4 separate regions of the Homo sapiens genome follow, and regions 1, 2 and 3 are each linked to region 4. Evidence: fine-mapped expression QTL. A gene starts in region 4. Each other region holds a variant in brackets. All regions are shown on one strand. Distances are from middle to middle.

Region 1 (5,125 bases), 82 kb before region 4:
TGTGTTATTTTCACTGTGTTCACTGTGTTATTTTCAATAAATTCCTCTTCTTAATGCTTTCAACATAAGTTCCATTATGAAAGCAGTTTGGTGTCTCTTTGTTTGTGGAGATAGAGTCTCACTCCGTCGCCCAGGCTGGAGTGCAGTGGCATGATCTTGGCTCACTGCAACCTCTGCCTCCCAGGTTCAATCGATTCTCCTGCCTCAGCCTCCCGAGTAGCTGGGGTTACAGGCGCCTGCCACCATGCCTGACTAATTTTTGTATTTTTAGTAGAGACGGGGCTTCACCATGTTGGCCAGGCTGGTCTTGAACTCCTGACTTCAAATAATCCACCCACCTCGGCCTCCCAAAGTGCTGGGATTATAGGCATGAGCCACGGCACCCGGCCAGCAGTTTGATTTTTTAAAGCAGGAATACCTCAGTAGACTTGTTATGTTGGATGTTACTTAAGAAATAGAGAAAAATTTGGGTGTTTACAGAGCTATCATGTGAACGATGTAATATTAATCCTATGGCTGGAGACAGTAATGGGGAATAGGTCTTGGAGAGACTGGGGGATTCTCAAACCCAAATCCAGACCTAACAACTGTCTATAATCCCAGTGGAAAAGTGAGGCATCCAAAGAAGCCCACATGGCTGCATAGGGGGCTCTTCAATAGGCTTCAATCTTTAAAAAAGCAAAACCGGAGTTTACAAAGACAAAGTCAAGAGAGTGGCAGGAACCTCTAAGTGTACTTGCAGAATGCCTAGAGCCCATAGTGAAGTTAGACTTGTAAAGTATGTGATTGGTAGCAAATGGGACTTTTAAATCTGTGCCTACACAGAAGGATGAAAAAGTACCAGGTTTCAGTGAAAATGATGCGATCGCTGATAACAGAGAGAAATAAGAATTATCCAACTCTTAGTTTACTTAGATCTTCTTATTCAGGGAGAATGTTTTTGAAATTATAAATAATTTTTAAACAATGAAGGTAAATTTGAAATTTCACTATAGTACATGCTTTTACTATTCCCTCTTCCTTGAAAGAACTTTTTTGAAAAAGCAGTTGCTTTAAATTAGTTTAGTCCTTGAGAGCTCTGGTTTACTACTTTTTAATCCCAAAGTACTAAAAAACTTTCTGATGTGATCTTAGATTCACTGTTAACTATATCTTTGGGAATTTGTGAGGAATAAGAGAGATGCCAAAACCTAGAGCCAAAAAATAGGCCTAATTTTAAAGGGGTTTTAAACTTCAGATTAGTAAATATATTGTTCCCTGGAAATTTTGGACTGGAGTATCAAGTACATTAATTGTCTGCTTTTTGAAAGGTTTATAGGATTCCACTGAAGCAATACAGATTGTTTTTAAATAACAAGTTATGTTAAATTAATAACTTTTTTTCTAAAAAGTTTATTAAGTTCATTAATTCATTCATTACATTCACAAATAATGTATTGAGCCAGGTACTATATGCCAGGAGTTCATCTAGATACTGGCAACCGAGTAAAACAAAACAAAACTTCTGGCTTTCAAGAAGCATGCATTCTAGTGGTGAAGCAGGCAAAAAGTGGCTAGATATGTGTTAATAGGGAAAAAATGCTGGGAGAAAAATAAAGCAGGATAAGAGAATTAAGAAGTAAGAGTAATAACACTTGAAAACTGCATTTTGACATAAGCAAAACACTTAACAGTGGCTGCATATTAGACTTTAGGAGAAGATGATGAAATATGGATTAATGATGTGACGCTCATTGATTGAATGCTTCAACCTTGACACCCGGTAACTGACATGAACCCAGAGGGGTTGGTTCAATCTGAGGAATATGCCTCAAACTGTTGCTGGTCCACTCTTGGGCAACACTGGTGTCTACAATTTAGATGGAGATGTAGAAGGTATTAATATCATATACCAAGTATGCAGTGCAACAAAGCTAGGAAGAATAATGGGACAAAGCCAATGGACAAAACAAATCCAGTCCTCTATAAAAGCAACAAGAACACTGGAAGTAGAGTCAGGAATCAACTTTTTCAGAACTCTGGAAATTAACCAAAACCTCGTAACAATTTGAAAAGTGTTTGTTCGAGAAAAATGGCAGAATCTTGGTAAAAGTGATAAGATTTGTAGCATTTTCACCTGCTGTATTCTGATTTCTGTCTCCTCAGTTTTAGTGATAGCTCTGAAAGCCAACAGCTTCACCGTCATGGTATCATGAAAATCTGAAAGCCAACAGCTTCACCATCGTGGTCTTATGAAAACCAGCAGCCTAGCAGTAACTAGAGCCGGGAGATGGGGGTGAGGGGGATAGTTTTGGAGGTACCCAAAAGTCTCATCCCCAGAGAATTGTCCGTCTTTGATCTCTCTGGCAGCTCTCTGAAGACCCTCACTTGCAGGACTGACTTTTATTTCACCTAACTCAGAGCCTAGGGGCATTGGTCAAAATAATGAGCAATGATTTTCACATTGCAGCTGCCTGTGGCTGCAATAACAGTTGAGGACAAACAAGAAGTTGACAAAAAAGTTAAAAAGATAGGCTGGAGAATAAACTGTCCCGAGGAGGCTTTGTAAAATTCTGACATATTCATTGGAATTTAGAAGATGATGTACATATGCAGAGCTGTGCAGATGCCACCCAAAACCTAAAGAGGCCCTAATCACTCACCTCTGACTGAAATTGAGGCTATGCAAAGGCACACAATAAAGGCTAACATTTACTTGTAATCTGCTTGCAAGACCATTAAAGTTGCACTCCGAACACATACACAGAGTCTCTTGACAAAGGTGGTAAGAGTTAT[TG/G]ATGCAAGACACATAAGGAAATCTCTGTCCAATAATTTGTTGAATGGTAAGCTAACCAAACAGAGACCTCAGTGGCTACATGTGAAAAAGAACAGTGACTTTATACGACTAGCTCAGAGAAGTCACTAAACAAACAACTACAATAACAAATAATAAATATAACAAACCCTGTTGAGGGGAGGGATCTGCTTTCCAGAGTTGTCACGTTATATTGTTTAAAATGTTGAGTTAAATACACACACACACACACACACACACACACACACACACACACACGGCATGGTGAAGTGTGCCTGCAGTCCCAGCTACTTGGGAGACTGAGGTGAGAGGGAGGATCCCTTGAGGCCAGGAGTTTGAGACTAGCCTGGGCAACACAACAAGATACCATCTCTAAAACAAACAAATGCTACAAGACATACAAACAGGCCAGGCGCGGTGGCTCACCCCTGTAATCCCAACACTTTGGGAGGCCAAGGCAGGTGGATCACAAGGTCAGGAGATCGAGGCCATCCTGGCTAACACGGTGAAACCCCATCTTTACTAAAAATCCAAAAAAAAAAAAAAAATTAGCTGGGTGTGGTGGCGGGTGCCTATAGTCCCAGCTACTCAGGAGGCTGAGGCAGGAGAATTGCTTGAACCCGGGAGGCGGAGCTTACAGTGAGCTGAGATCGCGCCGCTGCACTCCAGCCTGGGCGACAGAGCGAGATTCCATCTCAAAAAAAAAAAAAAAACATACAAAGAAACAGGAAATTATGCCCCATACTCAAGAAAATAAAGTAGTCAATAGAAACTGTCCCAGAGAAAGTCCACACATTGGACTTACTATGAAAAGTCTTAAAATCAGCTATTATAAATATGTTCAAAGAACTAAAGGAAAATGTGAGAATGATGTATCACCAAATAAAGAATGTCAATAAAGAAATAGGAATTATTTAAAAGAACCAAATAGAAATTCTGGAGTCAAAAAGTACAATGACTAAAATAAAATATTCACTAGAGGAGCTCAATAGCAGATTTGAGCTGGCAGAAAAAAAAAAACAGTGGATTTATAGATGGGTCAGTAGATGTTATCCAGTCTGCAGAACAGAAATAAAAATTAATGAAGAGAAATGAGCAGGAACTCAAAGACTTATGGGACATCACCAATTGCACCAACATGTGCATAATGAGGGTCCGAGAAGGAAAGGAAAGAAATGGCACAAAGAATATTTGAAGAAAAACGACAGAAAACTTCTCAAATTTGATTTTAGGAAAAAACATTTATCCACACAGCCAATGTAGCTGAAGCTCAATGAAGTATAAGAGACCTGTACCTAGACATATCATAATTAAACTGTTGAGAGACAAAGACATTCTTGAAGACAGCAAGTAAGAAGCAACTTATCACATATAAAGAATTCTCAATCAGATAAACAGCAAATTTCTTATTTCTCTTAGAAACCATGGAGGCCAGAAGACAATGGGATGGCATATTTAATGTGTAGAAAGAAAAACTTGTCAAAAAAATCATACTGTAGACACCAAAAATATCCCTCAAAAACGAAATAGAAATTAAAACTTTCCTAAGTCAACAAAAACTGAGAGAATCATCACTAGCAGACATGCCCTACAAAAAAAAAATAGTAAAGGGAGTTCTTAAAGCTGAAATAAAATGACACTAGATGGTAACTAGAATTCACGTGAAAAAAATAAAAAGCACTGGTAAAGGCAACTACATAAGTAAAAATAAAAGACAATATAAATGTAATTTTGGTTTGTAATTCTTCTATATTACTTAAAAGATTACTGCATAAAGCAATAATCATAAAATTGTGTTGAGGGGCTTATGATATATAGAGATGTAATTTGTATGATGATAATGCCACAAAGGAGAGCTATATAGGAGTAAAGTTTTGGTACACTATTGAAAATTGAGTTAATATTACTTCAAATTAGATTGTTACAAGATGCTAATTGTAATCAAATATACATATGAAATACATGATAATATAACTAGGATGGTACACTAGAAAATATCTAAAACAAAATAATACACTAATGGAGGAACAGAGGAACAAAAACATGAGACATGTAGAAAACAACAAAATGGCAGGTATAAATCTTAGTTACATTAAATGTAAATGGATTAAATACTCCAATAAAGAAGTAAAAATTGGCACAATGGATTTTAAAAAATTGATCCAACTATGCTATCTACAAAAGACACACTTGAGTTTTAAAGACACAAAAAGATTGAAAGTAAAAATGGGAAAAGCTATAGCATGAAAACAATATTGAGAGAGATGTAGTGGCTATATTAACATTACACAAAATAGAAGTTAAAACAAAAATTATTACTAGAGCCAAAGT
Region 2 (5,157 bases), 28 kb before region 4:
GAGACACTGTCTCAAAAAAAAGAAGAAAAAAAAAAAAGAAAGGAGAAGCTAGCAGAAGAGAAACAGGGCACCCCTCCCTGGTGCATGAAGCATCCTGGAGCACTTTCATCACAGGTGGTTTTGTAACTTACATCACAGGTATTGCTGTAAGGGCAAGGTTAGAGAGAGTTTGGTTTCCCTTCCCTCACCCTGATCCACCCTATCCATCCAAAAATGCATGTTTGGAAAATGATCCCGAAGAAAGAGAGTGCTTCTCCCTAAGGCCCACAACAGGAGAGCTGGTCTAAGACACTTCTCCACACCTCCTTTAACCTATCAAGTCCCAGTTCCATCCTTTTACTCCAGCAAGAGGGGCAAGGGAGAGGACAAGGGGAAGTGTCCCAAGATAGGTCTCCTTCACTTGGCGGGAACTTTTAACTTCTTCAGTCTTCCCATGAGTGCACCCCTCCTGCTAACTGGGATTCCTTGGCTCACTGGCATTCTGCCTAGAGATCAGAGGATCATTTCTCAAAAGACAGTCAAAAACAGACCTTTGGGAAGGGCAGCATTAAACACAGATGTCTTCATGAAGGCCTCTCCAGAGCCTTTTGCCTTTGAAGAGAAGTGAGGCACGCAGGACTTTCCAAACTTACTGGTCCATGGAATTGTTTTTAGAAGCATCCCGAAAGGCAAACTTTCAGAATTCCATGGACCAATAAAACACGGGAAATGCAGTGTTAGGGTGTGGTAGCAACACTCCGATTATACCCACAATCAAGGTCTGGTCTGAGAGCCACTCTGTCATTTTCAAGGAACTTTAATGTATCTGTTCTCCACCATCATGGGTTGCTTTAATTTGATACACTCTTGGAATGCTGGGAGCACTTGCCTGGAATTTCAGCCTGCCATCACTGTTGGTGACAGCCTCATAAATGGTTTCCCGAAGTCCCATTTGGCTAGTCTAATTTACCCAACCTCCCCATGCACTCTTACCAAACTGGCAGACCCTCACAAGCTCATCTCCTCACCATGCCCCGTTATCAGTAAAGGGAGAAGGAGAGGAGGAGTATTTCTCCCTATAGGACAACGGCCTGAATTCCAACAGCCTCCCCTTCCCCAATTTCTTTCTGCCTTCGTGTGTATAAGTTGCTGCCCTCGTCTTTCGGTTGGAAGTTTCTAACATTTTCTGCAGGAGAGTCACAAAAGCAAGCCTTTAGGCAGCCCCTCCGGAGCCTGGCCCACATTGTCCTTTTCAAGACCTCCAGCTCTGAGTTTGTGACTCCCCACTGTGGCTGCAGCATAAGTTGCCACACAGAGGAGATGCCCACCGAGGGTGGATATTTTGGCCTGATCTCAAACATCTGTCATTTGCTGTTGTAAGATCTGAAAGTCTGGGATGGCCTACATTCCTGATTCTATATTTCAAGTGGAATAGTGTGCAAATGCTCAGTATCCAAAATAAATGGGATATCAGCTTTGTCTCTGGCATTAACCAACTCATTAAATATAAAATAAACACAAGTAAATGGCCTTTAAATCTCACTGACAGAAAGCTTGGCAACTACTCTGAGATTCTAGAGGTCACTGGAACTTCTCTCTTCAAACAGGAATCTTCCTCACACTGTGAGGCACAGAAGGACAGGTCTGCCCAGTGAGGAGGGTTTCTGGGTGCTCCCTTCCACGTGGGTGCTGCCCTGCAGAGCTAGCTACCCCGAGAGCCTGTCCATGGAGAATGATGGTTACTGCCCGGACGGGGCACAGAGAAGTGGCTGTTAGTTCTTACAAGTGGTTAGAAATTCAGGACTAAGGCTTTCACTTGCCACTAATTATAAATACCTAGGAAGAGCCACCAAACCTTGGGTTTCTGATTGCTCCCTACCTATTGGCTATTCCCAGAGAGCCCATATTCACATGGTTTCCTAAATCCTGTGTACACTCACTCTCCCACGGGTCCCCCGGTCCCATTAGTAATGCTACTTGCTGAACACTTCGCTTTGTCTCAATCTATCTGTAGTTTCAACATCAACTGGACTTGTTGGGGAAGGTGATGGCCCAGGTTCTCTGGAAAATTGATGTAATTATTCACCTCATGCCAAGCATGCAGAAAACAAACTGTAATAATTCACCAACCATAAAACAAGCACATG[C/T]ACCTCTTTGCTCAGAACTTTACTTCAGGGCTCAGCTAGATTTCAGCGATTACTGACCTCTTTTATAAAATCAAAGTGAAAAATGTGCAGCTTTTGGTAAAAAGCATGTTGACTTGATAGTCCTTCAAACATGGGTGCTTGCCTGGGAGGCTGTGGGTGAGGAGGTCCATTATGCAGAAGACCCAGCTGTGGTCAGGTGTCAGAATTACTGGCTTTGCCCATTCACCTCAGTCAGCTTTCTTTTTTTTTCCTGTTTCTTTTTTAGAGATAGGGTCTCACTCTATCACTCAGGCTGGAGTGTAGTGGTGCAATCATAACTCACTGCAGCCTCAATCTCCCGCTCCTGGGCTCAACCAATCCTTCTACCTCATCCTCCCGAGTAGCCATAGCCAGGACTGCAGGCACACACCACCACACCGAGTGCATTTTAAAAACATTTTGTAGCGACAGGATCCCATTATATTTTCTGGGCTGGTCTCAAACTCCTGGGCTCAAGCCATTCTCCCACCTTGGCCTCCCAAAGTGCTGGAATTACAGGCATGAGCCCCTGTGCCCAGCCTCAGTCAGCTTTCACAGTCTAACTTTGTGCCAAGAAGTTAGTAAGATCTGAAACTAGTCAAAGTAGCTTCCATTTATTCACAGTTTTAAAAACATTTTTCAAGTTTAGTCAACTTCCCAATATAATCAAAGGACAAAATGGCAATAAAAAATATACTTCATCAGATCTTAGAGTTATACAATCAGTTAAAAAATAGATATTGGGTTTTAAACAACTGACATATGCTTTCCTTTTCCCCCTTTAAAGGTTTTCAGTAGTCTATCTGAAATCACTGAATCACTTTTCTTCTCCTCCACAGAATTCAGAACTTTTTCACCCGGAACTGGAGAAGGAGCACTCCGTCATTAGCTGAGGGGAATGGCAAGGATCCAGGGGTCCTCCATGACTACACAACCATCCTCCTGAGCACCTTTAGGAAATCCAATGCTGTCTGAGAAGCAGCAGGGCCAGATCCAGATCTATGGAAAATTAATATCTGCAGTGCTTCCTGAAGGTCACCTCAGTCTTTATGCCATTTCAAAAGCTAGCCCGGGGCTTGAGAAGAAAAGGGAAGTGGCATTCCAGCCATATTTGGGGTGCAATTTAATTTTCATTGCGTACCTCATGAACAGGGGCAATAACACATTCTAGGATATTCTTCCAGCCCACCCACTCTTCCTCTTTCTCTTCTTCTCTTTCTCTAACGAGTGGTAGTGACAGGATGCAAGTCTGCGCTCTTGGTAGATAAACGGAGAAGCAGGAGAAAGAACTATTCCATAATCAGTTAAACGGGGAGTTTTCAGAATCCTGTCTTGTCATTTAAGTGACTTACTGAAGTCCTACTAAGTTATTGAGACTATATTTCTTTACTTTTTGCACTGGGACATTGAAGCATTGAGACACCAGAAGTCCAAAAGACGAAAAATGTGAAAATCACAAATTTAAAGAAAATGTAGAGGTCTCAGTTCTGAAACACCATGCTTCAAGTGTTGTCATTTTTGAGAACATTTTTAAAAGGCATCTAATATTCCAGGACATACGGTTCCCATTACTGGCCCAGCAGGTACACAGGGTCTCCCACTTTGATGGTCCCTGGGTTTTCCAGCACAAAATACTGCCCAAAGAGTGGTGATTTTCCATATAACTTTCGTTCTGAAGGGTCACACTGGCGATAACTGCAATAGGAAAAGATCATGATGAGTCACAGCCAAGCGGATGCAAGAGCTCAACCAGCACGTGGCTTCCATCCCACACAGGGCCTCCGCACGCACAGCTCGAGAGGGCACCATCCCGTCAAAGCTCAACAGAACAGCGCCTCCTGGAGTGGGGCAGTGAACAGCCTGCCCAGCAAACAACGACAGAAGCATAAGCAATGGCCACATCCCCACATCTTTTCTCTACCTTCATGTTCCCCCTTTCGGCATTAAGACGTTAGATACTTGGCCAGGTGTGGTGGCTCATGCCTGTAATCCCAGCACTTTGGGAGGCCGAGGCTGGCAGATCACAACCAGGATGGAGATCAAGACCATCCTGACTAACACGGTGAAACCTCATCTCTACTAAAAATACAAAAAATTAGCCAGGAGTGGTGGCAGGTGCCTGTAGTCCCAGCTACTCGGGAGGCTGAGGTGGGAGAATGGCATCAACTTGGGAGGCGGAGCTTGCAGTGAGCGGAGATTGTGCCACTGCGCTCCAGCCTGGGCAATGGAGCAAGACTCCGTCTCAAAAAAAAAAAAAATTAGATACTCAATGTGTCTAGACATACTTTATCATCTTCCTTTGCCCTAGGCATCTTTCCTCCTGTCTCCTCCATGTCTGTCACCTGAACCACCATCCTAGCCGTCACTTGGGCTGGGAGCCCATCCTTTACACCACTGTCCTCTCTTCCCACAGCCTGTCCGCAGCTGCCGAGTTCCAAGGTTCTTCCTGTACAACATCATTTGACTTGGCTTGCTTTTCCTCATTCCGACTGTCACGATCTTGCTTCCAGCATGCTCAGACTATCATAATAACTTCTTAACCAACCTCTTTTCCTCATTCTCTACCTGTTTTCAATTCATTGTTGACACTGCACTATATCACTGTTTTAATTGTGTTCTGGTCTTATCATTCCTAGGCTCACAAACCTTCCGTGGCTCTCCAGTGCCTAAAGAATAACATTCCAACTATTCAGCCTGGTATGTAGGGCTCTACCTGGCCCCAGCCTGCTTTTTCAGACCTGTTGCCATCTGCTCCTTACCTGTGCCTCTGCAGCTCTCTGCTGGATTTCACCTTGCTTTGCATTGTACTGACTCGGTAAGTCCTCTGTGATTCCTGTGGGATGCTCCTCCTCCAGGTCCCCATGCTTTAGAATTGTACCTGCCTCAAGGCCCAAATCAAACACCACATCTCCCAGGAAGGAAGCCCAGGTTCCCCCAGCTACGAGTAATTCCCCCTCCTCAATTCTCTTTGCCCCTCCAATACTCACACATCTTGTCCTGTAATGTCAGGGCA
Region 3 (5,157 bases), 49 kb before region 4:
GTTATTCTGAACTTTCCTCATCGCAAATACCATCCTTGGCCTTCTCCGGTGACATACTAACACTCACTGGGGTTAGTTTCCTGGACTGTAAGATGTTCCTAGTTCCTATCTCGTTCAAACTATTTTCCCAGCATCTAGCAAGGTGCCTGGTGCACAGGCAAGTATGTGTTTTATGAATGAATCAACTAAAAACCTGAGTCTAAATGGCATCTTGAAAGGGACTCCACATTTTGTTTCCTTTCTTCCACCACCTCCTATTTTTGGGACACCAGTGGCAAATATTTAACTTAATCATATTTTTCTGTCCATGTCATATCATCATCATCATCCCTTGCAAGGCTCCTTTCTTATGTTATTTTACTTTATTATTTTCTCCTTTTATTCTTCCAGCCTGACTTTCATTCATTTCTCTCCCATAAGCACCCACTCCTGGGTATCTACTTTATGTTCTTAGTTAGGTCCATACCTGTAAATATGATGATATTATTGCATATATGTGATTAATGTACACAAATCGTATTTATCTGTGGATCTCGTTATATTCATTACTTTTTCATGCAAAAATATATTTTTGAGATTTAGTCATGTTGTCCTTTCAAGATTGATTGATAAATAAGATAGATGACAGATAAATAATTTAAAAATTCTGACTCTGCATTGTATTCCATTATTTGTGTCTGACATAACTATTCGTTCCTTGGGAAGAGATTTATGGTTGCCTTTAACTCCTCACTATTTCGATTGCCTCTACTAAACAATCCTTTCCCCATGGATTTTGTTGGTAACTTATAATTTTGATACAATTTCAAATTTAAAGAAAAATTGAAAGAATAGTGCAGGAAATGCCCATATACTCTTTACCTAGATTTATTAATCATTTCATATTTTGCCCCATTTGCTTCCTTACTTCCTATTTCTATCTATTTATATGTAGGCATTTTTAATCATTTGAGAGTAAGCTGGAGATATCAGCCCCTTTATCCCTAAATATTTCAATGTTTATTTCCTTAAAAACACAAACATTCTTTTATATGTCACAGTTCCATTATCAAAATCTGGATATTTAACACTGACATAATACAATATGATTATGTAATCTACATTGCATATTCAAATGGTAACATTTGTCCCAGTACTGGGCACAGAGCTATTCTGCTCTCCCAAACCAGTATCCAGTCCAGGATCATGCACTGTGCTGTGTTGGCTTATCTCTTTAACCTCCTTTAATTTGGAACAGTTTCTCAGCCTTTTTTCTTAACCTTGACTTTTCTGAAGAGGACATATCAGTTATTTTGTAGAATATTCCTCAATTTGGGTTTGTCTAAAGCTTCTTGATGTAAGGTGAAAACTGCCATATTTCTCCACTGTAAGGGTAGTATTTTCACCTTCGTAACTAATAAGTAATATTTTGCAAGATCCTTTGAGACAATGTAAATGTTCTTTTCTTCCCTAAATTTTCACTTTTCAGTTTTAGCACCCATTGATAATTTTCTAACTCCAACATTCCTTCTGCTGTAAGGAAGAGCTTGTTCTTTACCCGTATTTATTTATTTATTCATTGACTGACAATATCAATATGGATCAATGGATTTTCATTTTGTCAAATGAGTTTAATTTATTACTATTCAATTATAAAATTATAATAGATTTGGCCTGTGACAGCCACTTCAGGCTAGCTCCAATATGGTTTTAACATATCCTCGTTACTGGACAAGCACTTCCTGACTTTCCAGCACAAACAAGATGTTCTAGGCTCATTGTTGACTTCTGCCCCAGCCCTGGAATCAGCCTTTTCTCCAAAGAACGCTGATTTCTTTTAATGGAAGGTGGTATTTAGAAACCAGGATCTGGGCATTAGATAGAACCATTGCCGCCGATGTGGCATGGCTTTTAGGTCTTTTCAGGTGACAATGGCTAGGAAATATATATAATATATCATGTATTTTATTATACTGATGTTCAGACTGATACCCCTAATCTCAATTCAACAACACAGAGTACATTCTACTCATCCTTCTTGCTGTGTTTGTAACTCCAACAATGGGAAATCTGGCTCCCATTATCCTCAATATTTTTACTCTTTTGCTAACCATTACTACTTCAACAAGCAAACTTCATAATAAGTTTAATGTTTGCTTACAGTTCTTCTTCATATACAATCTTCAGAAGTGAAATGCACAGATTTTAACTGCAGTTTGATGAGTAGTGGTAAATGAAATCACCCATCTAACCACACAGCTATCAAGATATAAAGCATTTCCATGATCCCAGAAAGTTCTTTTGTCAACCACCTTCCCACCAGCAGCCATTTCTTATATTTTATTTTTTTCACCATAGATTTTTGTCTGTTTTCCTGTTCTTGGCCTCATATAAATGGGATCATAAAGTATCTACTCCCTTTTGTTTTGCCTCTTGCTCAGCATGTCTGAGACATTGATCCATGCTGTTGTGTGTTCTAACAGTTCTTTCCTTTGTATTGTTCAGTAGTATACCATTGTATGACTATACCACATTGATCTATCTATTCTTCTATTCATAGACATTGGTTTCCAGTT[A/G]TTGTCTATTATGAATAAAGTTGCTATAAACATTCTTGTAAAGTCTTTTTGTGGACATATGTTTCACTTCATTAATCTTCCAAAATAACCAATTTTTGATTTTGTTAGTTGTCTCTATTATTTTTCTATTTTGTATGTGATTGATTTCTTCTCTTATCCCTAGCATTTCTTTCTTTATATTTACTGTGGGTTTAATTGCTCTTCTTCTTCTAGTTTCATAAAGTAGAAACTTGGGTTTTATATGGCCTCCCAACGGGCTGGGATTACAGGCATGAGCCACCGCACCCGAATGACTGAATATTTTTTAGCATTCCATTTTATCGCCTCTACTGGCTACTTAGCTTTACCTCTTCGCATTTTTTGTTTAGCAGTTGTTCTAGGGATTGTATATGCATCCTTAACTTATTACTTAGAGCTAATATTGCCTGAAATATAAGAGCATATTGCAACAGTATAATTCCATTTGTCCACTCCCAGCCTTTGTGCTATTGTTACATACATATTATATCTCAATACATTATAAACCCCAAAGAGAGTACTCTAATTTTTGCTTTAAACACTCATATATTTTAAAGAAATGGAAGGAAGAAAAAATACTTTCATCCCACTGAACTCTCTATTTCAACTATTATATTTTTTCTACCCTGTATTTCCATTTGGCTCCTATTCATAATTTATATCTGCTTCTTGTTTCCAACATCCTTTATTAGAATTTTGAAAATACTTATTACATTTATTTATATTCCTGTTCTTCCCAGACCCTTAACTCTGCTTCCTCTGGTATATGTTGTTCAGTTTTTGGCCTTTCTTTACTGATGTTTGTGTTCCTCAGAATTCTCTTTTTTTTTTTTTTTCTTCTGAAATCCTATCAGCTACCATTACTGTTCGTATATACCTTGGAGGAGAGTCAAATGCCTAGATTGTATAGACTCCAAGTGAGTTGGGAAAGGGGCACGCTTCTAAGCACTTCAGGATGATGTTGCATTCTGCTATAATTCCTAGGTATGTAGTAATGCCCAGAACCTCCACTCAGGCACTGCTCTTTTCAGAGGCTGTCTTTCTCTGTGGTAATCTCTAAGCCCAAAGCATCAGCAGGACATTGCTATCATATTGCATATTGCTCTTATATTTCATGCAATATTAGCTCTAAGTGATAAGTTAAGGATGCATATGCAATCCCTAGAACAATTGCTAAAAAAAAAATGGAAAGAGGTAAGTAACCAGTAGAGGAGGTAAAATGGAATGTTAAAAAGGTTTTGGTAAGGGAATCCTCAGAGTGGCCTGTCCAGCAAATCTCTATTGACTATCCTGGTCAGGATCTAGGATCTTATTCTGTTGCCTTTGAGAGGCATAACTATTTTCCTGTCCTATAGGGTCAATGTGGTGGGCAGTGATCCATCCAGATAAATATGAAGGAAAGAAAGAAACCAACTGGCAAGCACTTTCCAGGCATAACTCCAGTATGTTAGTCAAGGTTCTCCAGAGAAACAAAACCAACAGGAGACTAATTGGCTCACAGGATTATGGGGGCTGGCCAAGAAGTCTCAAGGTCAGTAGTCAGCAACTTGAAGACCCAGGAGAGCCGAAGTGTCATTCCAATCTGAGTCCAAACACCTAAGAAACAGGAGAGCTGATGGCGTAAATTCCAGTCCAAAAGGTGGCAGGCTCAAAGCCCAGGAAGAGCTGATGTTTTAGTTCAAATCCAAAGGTAGAAAAAGACCGATGTTCCTGCTCAAATAGTCCGGCAGAAGAATTTTCCTCTTTCTCAGTCTTCAGTTCTAGCCAAGCCTTCAACTGATTAGATGAGGCCCACCCATATTAGGAAAGGCAATCTGCATTACTCAGTCTACCAATTCAAATGCCAACCTTATCCAGAAACAACCTCACAGACAAACCCAGGATAATGTTTGATCAAATGTCAGGGCATCCTTGGTCCAGTCAAGCTGACATAAAATTACTCATCACACCCAAAGTGTCTGTGACATTTTGCCCTCCCCCAGTCTCACCCTTACCATGTCTCCCACCCTCACCATGAAAATCTCTACAGCTTTTCTCTTCATTTTCAGGATCTGGCAACTTCCTCTCACTTCAAGATTGGGCTTTGGGAGGAAGCCAATATCCTGTGCTAGCTCACCACCTTTTTTGAAACTGGAAGCTTTCAAAGCATTTAATTTCTACCTGACATAGGAAACTCCTAATTGTAAGATTACTCTAAGACATTTCTTTAAAAGGTACAGAAGACTCATTAGCAGTTTTCCAACTTCTCTAACCTGAAAGAAGTATGAGAGGAAAGCACCGACTTGTTATTAATCAAGCTGTGTCTGCCTGGTTTTCTGTGGATGTGTTTTGTTTTTAATAAATGACTGCTGATAGTTGAAATTCAATATACTAGCCATAAAAGAAATGTGACAGGTCATGGGCCAAAAGAAGTTAACTGTAGGAAGTGGAAATTTTGAATAAGACAATGAGATTCAGTGAGTGATAAATATAGTGTATCATGTGAGCTTTTAGTCCCAGAAGAAAATAATTTTATAGACTTAAAGTTATTGATGGTGCCAGATTTCCCTTCCCCTGAGGGAGCATTTCCTAGCCTTTCATCCAA
Region 4 (5,157 bases):
TGCTGCAAAGAACATTCATCCTATTTATGTCCCAGTTCCTTTTGGTAAATACCTTAGAGTAAGCTTGTCCAACCCGTGGCCCAGGACAGCTTTGAATGAGGCCCAACACAAATTCATAAACTTTCTTAAAACATTATGAGATTTTTTTTGTTTTTGTTTTTGTTTTTGCTCATCAGCTGTTGTTAGTGTTAGTGTATTTTATGTGTGGCCCAAGACAATTCTTCTTCCAATGTGGCCCAGGGAAGCCAAAAGATTGGACCCCTCTGGCATTGACTATGCCAGCCTTTCCCCTAGCATACCCCATCCTCACAAGCCGAGTGTCTTTGCCCAGCTTATTCCCTCTCTAGAAAGTTCTTCTCCCAATTTACTTGCCCAGCAAGTTCTGAATCGTTTTCCAGTTTTCAGCTCAAGCTGTTACTTTCTCTCTGATGTTGTCCCTGACGGCCCCAGCCAGCTTCCAGCACTGCATCCTCTATGCTGGCACCCTGGCACGTGTCGCATCCTCTATGCTGGCACCCTGGCACGTGTCACAACCTCTGTTTAGTCTAGTCACAACCTAGGACTGTAAGCCAGTGTTGGCTTCTTTTGATCACACTTTCTGGGAGTGTGTGATGAACGAAAATAAAGAATTTATCATAGTGTCTGGTACAAAGGCCAGCTCTTCTTGTCATCTATTGTAATATGAGCTCAAAAACTGCTTTTTGAATCTAAGTAGTAAAATTCCAGTGCCCTTTGCCTCTGGGGCCTACAAAAACTCTACCACTTTTCAGAGCCTACTATACGAAACATGGATTTTTTTTTTTTTTGAGACTTAGTCTCACTCTGTCGCTCAGACTGGAGTGCAGTGGCGAGATCTCTGCCACAGTGGAGCTCTGCAAGCTCCGCCTCCCGGGTTCACGCCATTCTCCTGCCTCAGTCTCCCGAGTAGCTGGGACTACAGGCGCCCACCACCAAGCCCGGCTAATTTTTTGTATTTTTTAGTAGAGAAGGGGTTTCACCCTGTTAGCCAGGATGGTCTCAATCTCCTGACCTTGTGATCCACCCGCCTCGGCCTCCCAAAGTGCTGGGATTACAGAAGTGAGCCACCGCGCCTGGCCCAAAACATGGAATATTTAGGATTCTTGGCTTCCTTCCTGAAGCAAAGATGCATACGTCACTCACCTTTCAACTATGTCATGAATTGCCCTCTGTCTGGGGAGCTGGTAGGAGAAAGGTTACAGCTCCCATTAGTCCTGTGTTACTTGCTGAACTGCGAGGGCTGCTCTGGAAAGGAGTTTCAAGTGCAGCCTCACAATAAGACCCGAGGCTGGCCTGAAGCCAGACCCTAAAGAGGACAAAGCTGCCGGCTCCCGGGTTTTGCAGCCTTCGCTGAACCCCAGGAATCCACGCAGCTCTCAGAACCCAGACAGGACATTAACAAAGTCACTCTTTACAAAGCCCCAGTGTGCTAAAGAAAATAAGAGTCCTGGTTCTGCTGCTGTGTGGCTCTGAATTCAACTTCTTTATCCACAAGAGTGCTTGAGAGCATTGGAGAGAATTGGGGAAAATAGCATCTGCAATGCCCCCACAACTCTTTCTTTCTTTCTTTCTTTTTTTGATTCGGAGTCTCGCTCTGTTGCCCAGGCTGGAGTGCAGTGGCGCAATCCTGGCTCACTGCAACTTCCACCTCCCGGGTTCAAGCTATTCTCCTGCCTCAGCCTCCTGAGTAGCTGGGATTACAGGTGCGCGCCACTACGCCCGGCTAATTTTTGTTTTTTTGTTTGTTTGTTTGTTTTTAGTAGAGACGCGGTTTCACCATGTTGGTCAGGCTGGTCTCGAACTCCTGACCTCAGGTAATGCACCCGCCTCGGCCTCCCAAAGTGCTGGGATTACAAGCGTGAGCCACCGCGCCCGAAGGTATTCGTTGAACTGCTGTCATTACTATTATGAGCTCCGCCTTGGTGCGCTCTTGGAGGGCTGGACTCTACAGTTCAGCTTTCTCCAAGATCTCAAGAAAGTCACTCAAAATAGCGACTGGGAACCAACCTCTTCAAGCTAGCCGCCTCCACTAAATGGAGATTAAGAAGTTTGCTCACTGGCAGACACCTGGGAGCGATACCACACCTCAGCAGGAGCACATGACGCCAAAGAGCCAGTGGGAGGTGGAGATCCGCCCACCCCGGGAAAACGGGTCCACGCGCTCAGAGTCCCAGAGCCCTGGGGTCTGATGCTGGGGGGTGAGGGTTCCTTTTTCTCTTTGGCCTTGTCTCACCCAACTCCCAGTTTCTTTGTAATAGGAGGAAGGACCTGTTAGCAGACTCTGCAGACCTCCCCTGCGCTCCTCCCTTCTCACCCCCTTGCCCCGAGCCGGATCAGCGCTGCCCCGCGCCGGCGCTTGGCCGTACCTGTCCCGCAGGTTGCCGCTGCGCAGCCCCATGGCCGTGCACTCCGCCTCGCTCACCGGCACCCCCTTGCAGGATTTCACAGGGTAGATCCAGAGCTGCGCCACTGTGCCCACCTGCTGCAGCAGCCGCCGGCGCCGCGTGGGCCATGCGCGGCGCCAGGCGACAGCCCCCAGCGCCACCGCGGTCAGGCCCAGCGCGGCAACCCCGAGCCACCCGGGCCGGGATTGCGCGAGGAGGACAAAGCGCGCCAGCGCGGAGGAGCCGGCGGCGCCCATGGCTGGCTTCTCCGCGAGGTGGCGGCGGCAAGGCCGGAGCGCGCTGGTCGCCCGGGGCCGCTGGGGGAAGGTGCGGCCTTTGGCCCCGAGCCCAAAGGCTGGGCAGCTCCTGAACCCTTCCGGGCCAATCAGAGCAGTGCGTCCTTCTGGGGGGCGGCGCGGGGAGTGGGAGGTGGTGGCTCAGCTTCCACTTGGTCGGCGCCCCACTGCCTCTGCAACCTTCCGTCGCCTGCGCTGCAGGGCGCTGTGCCCTCCCCCACCCCACGATCGCTGCAAGTGACCAATTTATTTACTTACGTATTTATGGGGTTATTTGACCTAAAATAAACAATATACAACATTTGCAGGACAAAGCGTGATTTTGAAATTAGAAATCAGACAGCTGGCAGCAGCCTCTCCTGGGAATAGTGGAGAGCTGGTAGGCCCTGCCTGGCCTGTGCAGTGTCCAGCTCTCTGCTGCCGCCGCCCTCCCCTCAGTCTGCCCAGGGGCTAGGAGCTTCCAGAGAGTGGGGGTCTGATGAAGGAGGATGCTACCAGGCCCTCCGCGCCGGCGAGCCAAGGCCAGAGTTCTCCCGGCGGCCCCTGGGAGCGGCAATGGGCGTCTGAGAGTGCCTTCTACACGGCTCGGGGACGCTCGACTCCTACCGGCGGGGAGCCTCGAGCTGGAGCTGCATTGGCAAGGGCCTTGGCTCAGTTTAACGCTGCACAAGGTCCCCGGGCTGCTTCCGGCGGGAGGGAAAGTCACTTGGTCCTGCAGGCACTCACCTCAGTCACTTGTCACTTCCAAATCAGGTTATATTCCAGACAACAATGTTAGCATACCCCGAACAGCGTGGTTTAGGAGTCAGGCTCCTGCTTGATGTACCAAGCTATTAAAGGAAAAAAATTCCCTCAGACGCTTGTTAAAAAGGTAAGGAAGACTATTCAAGGCTACTGTAACAGGGGCATCACAATAGGGGAAAGAGATTAGGCTCAACTCTGTATTACAGCAAAGACAGCTCAGGATTCATAGCCAAGGAGCGAAGTTCCTCGGGGTCAGTGAATGGAAAATCACTAAGCGGAGACATCAAGTGTAGAGGATTCTTGATAAACCCACTTAACAGGATTCTACTGAACAAGGCAAGGACTTACACACTGAGGGTGACATATGAGGAATCTGAGCAGACATCAAGGGTGATCAGATATTAAGGATGGGAGAATACTCTGGAAACTGACTAAGCAGGATTCTTGCTAAACTGGGCTCTGCAGGGAGTAGGGTGGCAAGGTCAAGGCCTCATGAAGAAAAGGGCACAGGAGAGTCCGAAGTTTGGTCAAGGAGAGTCTGTGTTATCCCCAGCTCAGCCATGGTCCCCTGAGCCAGGAGTGTACATTGCAAGACTCAGCCAGAATTGCCCATGCAGGGCAAGGGTGCATGGATGAGAAGCGGGAGTTCGCCAAGAGAAAAGAACAACACTCTTCCTCCAGCTGGCAACTCACTGCAGAGCAGTTCAGTGCTCAGGGAGGCTCTGTCTTTATTGGCCTGAACACTTATCTGTCCTGTTTTTCTGCTCTATTCTCTTCTCTTCCAACCCCAGGTCACACCTTGTCTGTAAAGGACACAGCTCAGCAGGAGGCACGACTTGATCCTCCTCGGAAAGGCAGTTCCGGGGCACCAAATGTGCGTTTCTGTTTATCTCCCTCCTGAATTCCTCTTTGAAAATTTAAGAGGAAAAAATGGCTTCCCTATTTTAATGGCTGACTTTGAAGTTCTGATTTTTCAATTTCATCACTTCCAGAATTTACCCAGGCCTACAGCTCACTTACCACTTTTACCTCACAGGGTGCGGGGAATGGTGGTGAATTTCAGTCCCAGAACCCAGCAAAGGAAAATGGAGGAGGAGGGAACAGCCACTCCTCACTGACCACTAGGAAGGCCCCTTGCGGACACTGGCCATCCTGCCACAGACAGGCCACCTGTGTGCCTGCAGCTCACAACGCCCTCGCCCCCTGCCAATGACAGAAGCCAGTGTTTGTGGAGTCAGATTGTATCTCTGGAGGCAATCAGAAAGGGTAAGGAAAAATAAATTGCAGTGACTCAAATTCTAATATAAAGAGAAAAACCCAGGAAGAAGACTCATAAATACCAAAGATAAAGCAGGATTGAGATTCACATTTATTATTTACAAAGAAACCATAAAATTGTAAGTAGGTGAATTCATCCACATACTATTTCAGTGAGTATTTTTGCTTAAGATCATACCAAAGTTGTTCGTTTCTTTGTTACGAAAAAATTATTTGCACTGAAAAAAATATGTTCATGCTGTCTTCCTTGCATTCCTACTCTCAAAATTCCATTCTCTTTTAAATGTCATCCTCTTCCTTATCTTACTTGGAATTCCAGGTGGTATATCTGGCAGTTACACACAAACAGATTACTTTTATGTGGCTTAGTAAAGGTGTAATAGAGTACTAAAACTAAGTCTATAAGAGAATTTCCATACTCAAGTACAGCCCAGATT

Which allele goes with the higher level. Alleles are on the strand shown, and positions count from the first base shown. SD is a standard deviation of normalised expression in the study named. Not every link is listed here.
For the expression in monocytes of the gene that starts at base 2,691 in region 4, allele T in region 2 goes with a higher level than allele C (small effect, 0.40 SD a copy in CEDAR).

Evidence for each region. PIP is the estimated chance that this variant, and not a neighbour inherited with it, causes the effect. A credible set is the group of variants that fine-mapping cannot tell apart.
Region 1: its variant is the best candidate, but not a certain one, in a credible set for the expression of MTARC1 in whole blood (INTERVAL, PIP 0.53).
Region 2: its variant is the best candidate, but not a certain one, in a credible set for the expression of MTARC1 in monocytes (CEDAR, PIP 0.54).
Region 3: its variant is the best candidate, but not a certain one, in a credible set for the expression of MTARC1 in whole blood (INTERVAL, PIP 0.70).

Annotation. Positions count from the first base shown.
Region 1 is chr1:220,866,390-220,871,514 of GRCh38, reverse strand. All of the region lies in intron 1 of HLX-AS1 (HLX antisense RNA 1), which reads left to right. Among named protein-coding and RNA genes, the nearest start is that of HLX, 10 kb to the left of the region's middle. The variant TG/G (reference allele first, on the strand shown) is at 2,776.
Region 2 is chr1:220,811,974-220,817,130 of GRCh38, reverse strand. It overlaps MTARC1 (mitochondrial amidoxime reducing component 1), which reads right to left. Exons shown (of 7, transcript NM_022746.4): 7 at 1-3,839. The coding sequence ends at 3,713. Among named protein-coding and RNA genes, the nearest start is that of LINC01352, 15 kb to the left of the region's middle. RefSeq lists an enhancer at 3,215-4,414. The variant C/T (reference allele first, on the strand shown) is at 2,127.
Region 3 is chr1:220,833,564-220,838,720 of GRCh38, reverse strand. The region is part of intron 1 of HLX-AS1 (HLX antisense RNA 1); the gene reads left to right. Among named protein-coding and RNA genes, the nearest start is that of LINC01352, 6.9 kb to the right of the region's middle. The variant A/G (reference allele first, on the strand shown) is at 2,556.
Region 4 is chr1:220,784,447-220,789,603 of GRCh38, reverse strand. MTARC1 (mitochondrial amidoxime reducing component 1) reads right to left here and starts at 2,691. Exons shown (of 7, transcript NM_022746.4): 1 at 2,385-2,691. The coding sequence starts at 2,659. MTARC2 (mitochondrial amidoxime reducing component 2) reads right to left here. Exons shown (of 8, transcript NM_017898.5): 8 at 4,789-5,157.